Regions from separate parts of the Homo sapiens genome. Here region 2 is linked to region 1. Evidence: fine-mapped expression QTL. A gene starts in region 1. The other region holds a variant in brackets. All regions are shown on one strand. Distances are between the middles of the regions.

Evidence for each region. PIP is the estimated chance that this variant, and not a neighbour inherited with it, causes the effect. A credible set is the group of variants that fine-mapping cannot tell apart.
Region 2: its variant is the best candidate, but not a certain one, in a credible set for the expression of SHLD3 in adrenal gland (GTEx, PIP 0.61).

Annotation. Positions count from the first base shown.
Region 1 is chr5:65,622,831-65,628,217 of GRCh38, reverse strand. SHLD3 (shieldin complex subunit 3) reads right to left here and starts at 3,191. Exons shown (of 2, transcript NM_001365341.2): 1 at 3,112-3,191. TRIM23 (tripartite motif containing 23) reads left to right here and starts at 3,885. Exons shown (of 11, transcript NM_001656.4): 1 at 3,885-4,024. The coding sequence starts at 3,944. It overlaps TRAPPC13 (trafficking protein particle complex subunit 13), which reads right to left and starts at 3,191. Exons shown (of 13, transcript NM_024941.4): 1 at 3,112-3,191. The coding sequence starts at 3,157. RefSeq lists enhancers at 3,676-3,755, 3,886-4,215.
Region 2 is chr5:65,217,877-65,223,263 of GRCh38, reverse strand. All of the region lies in intron 18 of ADAMTS6 (ADAM metallopeptidase with thrombospondin type 1 motif 6), which reads left to right. Among named protein-coding and RNA genes, the nearest start is that of ADAMTS6, 260 kb to the left of the region's middle. The variant C/T (reference allele first, on the strand shown) is at 3,123.

The DNA of each region.
Region 1 (5,387 bases):
TTTTCTCTTAGAGCACAGAAGTCCTCAAGTTGCCCCAAATTAAGTCACTGATAATAAATTCCAGCATATGGTGCATAGGCTCAAGAATGGAGCCTTCCAATATCTGCAAGTTAGGCTTGCTAATCAGGCCCAAAGCTGTAAGAGCCATAAAACAGACTTTTTCACATCCTAACAACAGCAGAAAAAAATAAGTTGAATCCCTTCTCCCCAAAAATCATTAGAGAATTACTTGATGAGGGTTCTCCCACTGCTAGGATAACCATGAGTATGGATTCTTGTCATCATTTCACAATAGAATCACTGTCTGATTCTGAAGAGTTAGAAGAAATAATTTCATTATTTTTACCTACTGATACTGCCCACTAACAGATCTGACAACTCTCAAATTCATAAATAATTGTGATCTTTAACATCCATATTTTAAATATGGATCTAAATGTTATCATATATACTTTCAAGAACTAATGATGCACTAATGTTTTTCTTCCCTGTTCCTTATACTTTCACATTGTAAAATATGGCACTGAGAAATTCTCTTGTTGTCTAAAGTCAATCAGTGTTATACTCAAGGGATGACTTTTTTTTTTTTTTTGAGACAGAGTCTTTGTTGCCCAGGTTAGAGTGCAGTGGCACAATCTCGGCTTACAGCAACCTTCGCCTCCCAGGGTCAAGTGATTCTTGTGCCTCAGCCTCCTGAGTAGCTGGGACCACTGGTGCACACCATCACGCCTGGCTAATTTTTGTATTTTCAGTAGAGACGGGGTTTCATAATGTTGGCTAGGCTGGTCTCGAACTCCTGATCTCAAGTGATCAGCCACCTCACCCAACCAAGAATAACAAGATATTATCTTTAACATTTTACATATTAAAAGATAAAGTGAACTTAAATGACCACTTAAATTAATACATTTGGCATTCAGCATCAGCACATTGAAATGTGTGAAAATTGTTGATTAACTAGAACAATGGGTTAACTATAAGATGGTACTAAAGAGGTTTAATAAAGTTGAAACTATCAGTCAATTTTGAAGCACTTGTCCGTTTAGGCTGCTTATTGTTCTTTTTTTTTTTTTTTTTTTTTTTTTTGAGACAGGGTCTCACTCTGTCACCCAGGCTGGAGTGCAGTGGCGCAATCTCAGCTCACTGCAGCCTCTGCCTCCCAGGTTCAAGCGGTTCTCCTGCCTCAGTCTCCCGAGTAGCTGGGATTACACCACCACACCTGGCTAATTTTTGTATTTTTGGTATAGACGGGTTTTCGCCATGTTGGCCAGGCTGGTGTCAACTCCTGATCTCAAGTGATCTGCCAGCCTCGGCCTCCCAAAGTGCTATTACAGGCGTGAGCCACCACGCCTGGCTTAGGCTGCTTAAATATTCTTTCTTAGGTATCCTTGGTTTTGGAAAAAAAAGAATAACAGAAAACTAAAAATTCCCAGTGGCAGTCTCTGTATCACTGGAATTTAACTTTTTGTTTGTTTGTTTTTTGAGATGGAGTCTCGCTCTGTTGCCTAGGATGGCGTGCAGTGGCGTGATCTCGGATCACTGCAAGCTCCGCCTCCCGGGTTCACGCCATTCTCCTGCCTCAGCCTCCTGAGTAACTGGGACTACAGGCGCCCGCCACCACGCCTGGCTAACTTTTTGTATTTTTATAGAGACGGGGTTTCACTATGTTAGCCAGGATGGTCTTGATCTCTTGACCTTGTGATCACCCGCCTTGGCCTCCCAAACTGCTGGGATTACAGGGGTGAGCCACCACGCGCGGCTGCAATTTAACTGTTTTTAATAGCTTCTAATTTGTATAAATCACACGTAGCAGTTAATAGAACTGTTCCAAATTCCCATCGGAGTAGCTGGTAGAGGAATTATCTCTGAGAATGCTGCTTCATTCTTTAGGAGGCAACACGGACTCTTGGAAAGAGAGGCAGGCCTTGCGTTGAAACACTGCCTCAATCACTAGCTATGTGATCTTGGAAAAGTTACTTAAACTCTGAGAATTAATATTTACTCCACATACTTGAAGTGAGATTGTGAGATAAAGAACACGACAATTAGTTGCTTTTCTTCTTTTCCCTCTTCTCCACGAGTAACAATCCATTTTAATCTCCATTTTAGTCTAGATCATTTGCTCAGGTTAAGCTTACAGGTCCCATCACTGTATCACTAAACATTACAAAGTTCCACAGTAAGAGACAATCTCGCTAACACAGGCATCATTATATGAGACTGATGAGCTTCTAGAAAGTCTGATGACTACATCATAATGGGAAGGATAAGGCGTTCCTCAAAATGGATGCCATAAGTAAAGTAAGCGCAATTCAATTGAACCCGAATGTTTATTGAGCATTTCCTCAGCTCATTCAAGAAGTCATTGTTAACCATATATTAAGGCATCCAAGAAACAAAAAGCGCATTTGTTGTAGTAAAAAACAAATAAAATAAAGCTGAAAAGATTTCAAATAAAAGGTTTCCAGAAAATAGGCATTAAAAAAATTGTCCTAAAAAAAAAAGTGCTGCTGTTTTTTCCTAAATAATGATCTAATTAAATCACCAAACTTACTCAAAATGGCTGTGTACAAAAAATGAGAGTTGACATTAGATCTCGGACATATTTCCCACATACACAGTGATTTGAAGTAAACTGCAGTTTGTTTTGAATAAATCTAAGTTATATGTTGTATTACTATGTATTGCTAAATTCTCTGCACTACTGTCATGCAATACTAATTTTACAGGGGAAGCTGAAGCCTGATTAACTTCGTCAGTGCCACAGGAAGAAACAAGAGACAGAAGGAAAAAGCACTTTGGATGCCCGCTGTAATTCACAGAGATCTCCACGGTAGGAGCGGGACGTCAGCTTCTGCGGCTAAAATCTCGTGACTGAAGCAGCACAGATCAGAAAGAACGATTTACCAGGTATCTATTTCGTTCTAGAAAGGGGCCCATAAACCTAAAAAGCATCCAGGAGAAATCGCTTCCTCCCGCTTGGCGGCAAAGGACAGAGCAGGAGGGCGAGCACTGAGTGTTTAAGAAGGATGAGGCCTACATGGCAAAGGCTTCGATAAGTAGGGAATGCAAGGAAACAGAAAAGGGGGAATCAGGTTCGCAAAAGTTTACCTTTTAGCGCCAGCAGGTGCTCCTGTTTAGGGGGATTCACTTCCATTTTGACCGGCACTTTTGACCCACAGCCTACGGGGGCTGGACAGGTTCAACTTGCCCCGGAAGGAAACGGAAAACCTCGCGTTTGGCAAAACCAAAAGTCAAACGCACTCTCAACCTCTCTCTGGTGGTGGTACCTTAAATTCTCCTACTGTGTCCTTTACAAACTGGCTTCTTTTCAACAAGTCCATTTCTTCTATCTTAGAAACGTAGGCATAAAATACTTTGTTTTCCATCTGCAATCACACATCGCGACTGCAGGAAAAGAAACCACCCCTAGGTAACAATACGCGGCCTCCCAAAGGCCAACGTTGCCGGAGTTTTTTTTTTAAAAAAAAAAAAAAAAAAAAAAAAGAGAGAGAGAGAGAGTGGCATGCTGGGATTTGTAGTTTATACAAAAACCGCGTTGCATGCAGGGAGATGCCCGTACCCCCTCACCGCCCTCAGTTCACGCCCTGGCTGGTTTGGATTCGAGAGGAAAAATCATTAAAGGATCTGGAGTTTTCACCCCAAAACTTTAATCGTTTTGTCCCTTCTTTTTTTTTCTTGTCTTTCCTCCAGCAGCTGCAGACTACATAATGAAAAATAACAAAAGTGCCCATGCGCGAGGCTGTGCAACTAACCACCCGACGATTGCGGGGAGGAGGAGTAAGAGTCGGCTAAGCGGCGCCCAGTGTCCTACTGCGCCTGTGCGCCGGTGGCGTGCGCAGAGGCCTCTGGGTAGGTGGCTCAACCCCGCCTCTCAGTTGAGGACTCTGAAGGCTGTTTCTGTGGCGCTTCCCCTGCGAGGATGGCTACCCTGGTTGTAAACAAGCTCGGAGCGGGAGTAGACAGTGGCCGGCAGGGCAGCCGGGGGACAGCTGTAGTGAAGGTGAGGGACCTTGCGTGCTCTATTCTCCACCATCGGCCTCCCTTCGGTTCATCCTGGAGACCTGGCGGCATCGCCGCGGCCCAGGCTTCGATAGGTGGGATGCGCGGCCTCTGGGCCCCTTTTGGCATTACAAGTCTCGTCCTGTCCTCTGCATCCTTTCTCTCCTATGGCCTGAAATTGCCTGGTCTTCTGCTCATGACATGTCATCATCGGGACATTTGTGAAAAGGAGCTTGCGGGCCAGTGGCAGTGACCTAGACCGGTCTTTTCTCCAGGTCCTCTGCTTTTAGTTAAACTCAACAGACATTAATTAGCTTAGTATTATAAATTGAGTCATCATCATCGTAACTACGTACTAAGTTAGGTGTTTTAGCTCGTTAATATCTACTTATGAAGTAGATGTGAATTCCCATTTTACAGGGAGGAAACCCAGGTTTAGGTAAACAGTGTGTGGCAGAGCCCCGGGTTGACCGGCTTTAAAGTCTGTACTTTTCGCTCTTGTACTGCGTCTGTAATCAGACATCTGTTATTGGGTGAGCTGCCCCCTCCCCTGTTAGTAGTACAGTCTATTAACTCTTTGCACAAGTCTGCAGCATCGTCATAGCTGGGCATTAACGATAGAGTTTATGAATTTTCTTATGCTTGAAGTTTGAGATTCTACCATGTATACATGCTCCAGAATCAATTTGCTAAAAAATCATTTGAAATATGTGGCACTCATTTTTCCCTTCCACTGTTGTGCACGGAAAGATATGGAGGGGAGAACTGATCCCATTGGTTTATAGAGTAACCTTCAGGAGCATCTCTAATCTAAGAGATTGATAATTCTCATTCCTGGCTACATATTAGGATCACTGAGGAGTTTTAGTACACTACTGATGCACTCCTCCTCCAGTTCTGATGAGGTTGACATCAGTATATTTTAGGAATTACCAGAAGTTATTTTAATGTGCAACCAGGGTTATGAATTACTGATCAAGGTAATATATGAAGTTTTTTTCACATCTTGAAAAGTAGACACCTATGATTATTCAGGTAATGTTGGTTTTATATGACAGCAAATGAGACATTTCTTCCCACAATTTAGTATCAGTGAATATTGGTGGTTGTTGATTCAGATGACCTTTAGGTACTAATGAAGTTATTCTACAGGTACACGGCATATCTGATATGCAAAGGAGCCCTCATTATTAGGCATGTTGTGTGACTGAGATTTTATTTATTGAATTGTGCTTTTGCTAAGTAGAGAATACTTGAAGAGCAGTTTGTGAATTAACTTGAAGTTTAAGTTTTATTTCATAATTGGAATGGGTATCATTGCAGTATCTATTTTTTTGTTACCCTGTTTGCCTTACAGTCTCAAA
Region 2 (5,387 bases), 400 kb after region 1:
TGTATGTTGAATCATCAGATTGTACACCTTAAACTTAATATTTTATTTGTGAGTTATACCTCAACAAAGCTGGAAAAAAAAGAAAGTATGAAAATATTTCCCAAAATGGATGTATTATTTTATATTTCTATCAGTAATATAGAAGAGTTCCAGCTGCTCTACATCCTTGTCAATACTTGGTATTGTCAGTCTTTTTAATTTTATCCATATGGATTTTTTTGTAGTGAAGTGTCTACACAAATATTTTACCCATTTAAAATTTTTTTTTCCTTTTTTTGAGTTATGAGTTCTTTATATATTCTGGATATAAGTCTTTGTCAGATATATTTTATGGATATTTTCTCCTAGTTTCTGCTTGCGTCTTCATTTTTTGAAGTGCCTTTTAATTTTGATGAAATTCAATTTATTAATTTTTTAATGGTTTGTGCTTTCATGTCCTATCTTAGAAATTTTACCTGCTCCAATATTGCAAAGATAGTTTTCAGTATGTAAGAAGTTATAGTCTTTATTTTTATGTTTAAATATATGGTCTACAAAATATAAAATATATTTATTAAATGTAAAATACAAATGCAAAATATAGTCATTAAAGACGTGTATTGTGCATACTACGACTGATACCTATGAGGGGGAGAGACAACCAGGCAAATCTATTTGGGGAAGAACAATTATTTATTTACTTGAATAACACCCTATCCTTTGATTTAACACTTAGAGTAATGACTTAAGACTTAAAACTATGATAAGAAATGTAAGATACATGAAATTCAAAAATAAAATTGAAAAACACATACAGTCAATTTTAAGTTAATTTTTATATAAGGTATAAAGTAAGGGTTGATGTTCCATTTTTTCATATGAATATTCAATTGCTCTAACACTACTTGTTGAAAAGACTATCACTTCTTCCATTGAATTACCCTGACACATTTGTGAGAGATCAATTAAGCATACATGGATGAGTCTATTTCTGTTCTCACCCATTGATCTAGGTTTCTGTCCTTAAACCAACACCACACTGTGTTGAGTAATCGAGCTTCCCAGCGGGTCTTGAAATCCAGAAGCATTAGTCCCTGAATGTGTTCTTTTTCAACATTATTTTTGCTTTTCTAGGTCCTTTATATTTCTATATACATATTAGCATGAACTTGTCAATTGAGACAAATCTTTTTATACAGAAAGAGAGTATATGGAATCTATAGGTTAATTTGTGGAGAATTGACATCTTAAAAATACTGAATTTTCTAATACATGAAAAGATTTACCTCTACATTTATTTAGGTCTTTTTAAAATTTTTTCACCAATGTTTCATTTTCAGTATATAGGTCTTGCACACATGTTCTGTTAAATCTAATCATGCTTTTTGGTGCTATTGTAAATATTATTGTATTTTAATTTAATTTCCAGTTTTTTGTTGTTAGGGAATAATATAGTTTATTTCTTTTTATATTGCCCTCATGTCCTGAGACCTGGTTCACTCACATATTACTTCTAACAGTTGTTTTGTAAATTCATTTGGATTTTCTCTATAGATTATCATGTCATCCTCGAACAAAGGCACTTTTACTTCTATCTTTCCAATCTTTATGCCCTTTATTTCTTTTTTCTTGCCTTATAACAGAGTTCATGACCTTTAGTACAATGCTGAATAAATGAGGAGACTAGGCAGCCTTTTGTTTTCAACCAATCATAAGGGCAAATCATTCCTTGTTGTTATTGTTTTTAACCATTAAATATAATGTTAGCTAGAAGATTTATGTAATGACCTTTGTCAGTTTGAGGATGTTCCCTTCTATTTCTAGTTTTTATTAGAGTTTTAGTCATGAATGGGTATTGAAGATGTCTGAATCTATTGACATGATTAGGTGGGGTTTGCCCTCCCTTTCCCTGTTAATATAGTAAATAAATTGATTGATTTTCAAATGTAAAATCCATGTAGTATTCTTGGGATATAAACCACTTTTTCATGATCTATTATTACTCTTATATATTGCTGGAATTGATTTGCTAATATTTTATTAAGAATATTTGGACCTATGTTCATGAGAGATATTTTTCTAGAGTCTTTCTTGTGATTTCTTTGCTGGTTTTTGTATCAGGTTAAGCCTGGCTTCATGAAATGGCTTTAGAAGTGTTCCTTTCTCCTCTGTTTTCTGGAAGTCTGGAGAGAATTGTTTCTTAATGCTTGATAGAATTCAACTGTGAAGCTATCTAGAATGGAGTTGTCTTTGTGGAAAGTTTTTAATGAAAAATTCAATTTTTATAACAAAGTTTTCAAATTTATTGGCATAAAATTATGCATAATATTTTCTTATTATCTTTTTAATATCTGTAGGATCTGTAACAATGGCTCTTCTTTTCATTTTCCGTACTGAAAATTTGTCTCTTTACCTTGATAATCCTAATGAGGGCTTTATTGTATTGATCTTTTTAAAGAACAAGCTTACAGTTTAAATGATTTTCTCTATTGTTTGTCTATTTTGCATTACATTGATTCCCACTCTTCTTTTTTTTTTGAGACGGAGTCTCGCTCTGTTGCCCAGGCTGGAGTGCAGTGGCGCAATCTCGGCTCACTGCAAGCACCGCCTCCCAGGTTCATGCCATTCTCCTGCCTCAGCCTCCCGAGTAGCTGGGACTACAGGCACCCACGTTGACGCCCGGCTAATTTTTTTGTAATTTTAGTAGAAACGGGGTTTCACCGTGTTAGCCAGGATTACCTCGATCTCCTGACCTCATGATGCACCCGCCCTTCGGCCTCCCAAAGTGCTGGGATTACAGGCGTGAGCCACTGCGCCCGGCTAATTCCCACTCTTCTGTTTGTTTCTTTTTTTCTATTCACTTTGTTTTAATTTGTTCTTATTTTTTCTAGCTTCTCAAGATACAAACTTAAATTACTGATTAAAAATCTTTTTTCTGCTATAAAACAAGCATTTTTTTTACCATAAATTTTGTCAGACATATGATACATTTTATTTTCCTTATGAAGTTTTAAATATTTCCTTATTTATCTTGTGACTCATGACTTAGAAGGTATTATTTAATTTCCAAATATTTTGGTGTTTCACAAATACTTTTCTGATACTGATTTCTAGTTTAATTGTATTTTGGACAGAAAACACAC[C/T]TTATATGATTTTAGTTTTTTGTTAAGGTTTTTTTATAGTCTAGCACATGTGCACTTGAGAAGAATGCATATTCTGCTATTTTGGGGTTAGTATTCCATTAATGTTCATGAAATTAAAGGACACAACTATCCTTTGGTTGGATAGTTTTTTCACATTTTTTATATTCTTATTTGCTGCCTTCTTGTTGAAGAATTACTGAAAGAATTACGTCGATATCTCCCATTAGAATTGTGGATTTGTTTACTGTTCTTATTAATGGCAAAAGCTGCGATTACTTTTGCACCAACCCAATAGTTTGTAAGATTTTTGCTTCATTTATTTTGAAACTATGTTTTAGGTGTATAGACATTTATGATTGTTACATCTTCTTGATATATTGAGCATTTTATGATTTTCAAATGTTCCTCTGTATTCCTGATAATATTCTATGACCAGTCTGGCATGGTGGCACATGCCTGTAATTCCAACCACTCAGGAGGCAGAGGCAGGAGAATCATTGAGCTTAGGAGTTTGAGATCAGCCTGGGCAACATAGTGAGATACCCATCTCTTAAAAATATTCTTTGATGCAAAGTCTGTTTTATCTGATACTAATCTAGCTACCCCAGCTGTCTTCTGATCAGTGTTTGCATGGTAAATCTTTTTCTATCTATTCACTTTTCATATGTAGGTACGTCTGTCTTTAAAATCTGTTTCTTGTAGAACACATGTAGTTTAATCTTGATTTCTTATAATGTCTAACAATCATTGCATTTTTAAATTCTAATCTTTAGTTTGGTGGGGGGGTTGGGGGTCGGCAACTATCGCTGTTAAGGGTCAGACAGTAAATCTTACAGTCTGTGTTACAACTATTCACTTCTACCATTGTAGTGTGAAAGCAGACATAGGTAATAAATAAATGGGTGTGACTGTGTTCCAATAGAACTTTATCTACTAACACAGGAGGTGGGTCATAAGTTTGGTGACTTCTTGTTTAGATCATTTATATTTAATGTAATTATCAATATCGTTGGGTTTAAGCCTACCATCTTGCTGTTTTTCTGTTTGTCCTGTGTGTTTTTTTTCCGTTTAATCCTCCTTTCATGCCTTCTTTTAGAATAACCATGGGTTTTATTGTATTCCACTTAATCTCTAATAAATAGCTTATTAGCTATACTTCTTTGCTCTGTTTAATTAGTGGTTGCTTTATGATTTACAAAATGCGTTTTTAATTTATCATAATACATTGCCAAATAATATTGCACCATTTTATGTATAATGTAAGACCCTTACAACAGTTTACCTCCATTGTCCCATTCCATTCTTTGTGCTGTTTTTTTTAATACTTTCTACTTCTTTATATGTTATAAATCCCACAATATATGGTTATTATTTTTGTTTCAAAGAGCCAATTATCTTTTTAAAAAATTTTAAAACAAGCAAAATTATTTTGTATTTACCCACATATTTACCATTATCTGGCATACTTCCTTTCTTTGTATAGATCTCAGTTTCCATCTATTATAAATATGTGTGTATATACATGTAATGTCATCATGTTTCTTCTCATTATGTTTTCCTTTAAAGTTCTTGCATATATTTATAATAGCTACTTGAAAATTATTTTCTGCTAATTCCATAATTTTTGTTATTTCTGGGTCTGTTTCTTTGGCTTTGCCTTCCTCCTGTTTGAATCACATTCTCCTCCTTTTCCACATTGGTAGTAATTTCTCATTGGATGTTGTACACTGTGAATGTTTCTTTGTTGAGAGCCTGGATTTTGATTTATTTTTTTAAAGGGTGTCAAGTAACTTGTAGATCTGCTTGATCCTTTTGATGTTTGCTTTTGAGCTTTGTTTGGGTAAATCCAGAATATTCTTTATTCTAGAGCTTGCTCAGCCCTCCTGCAAAAGCATGATTCTTCTTGGGTCTCTACTGAATGGCCTGGTGATTGAAATGCAGTAGTTCTGCTTACAGCTCCACAGTAGATTTTTTGCCTGGCTTTATGTAATTTTATCCTATACATATGCAGATCAATATTCAGCAACAGATTTCCTCCTTCCTCTCTTGTTCTCTGGTCCTGCATATTCCAGCTATGTCAGCCTTCCCAGTTTCTGATCTCTCTTCTTCACTTGGTGAGACCACTGTGTTCTGCTTGGGTTCTCCACCTAAAGAAAGTGTCTCCAAGCAGAAAGTTGTGGAGATCATGGTCTCTGCACAGTTCTGGTCAATGCATGAGAAAAGCTGATTCATATATTTTATGAGTTTTCTGATTATTTACAATGG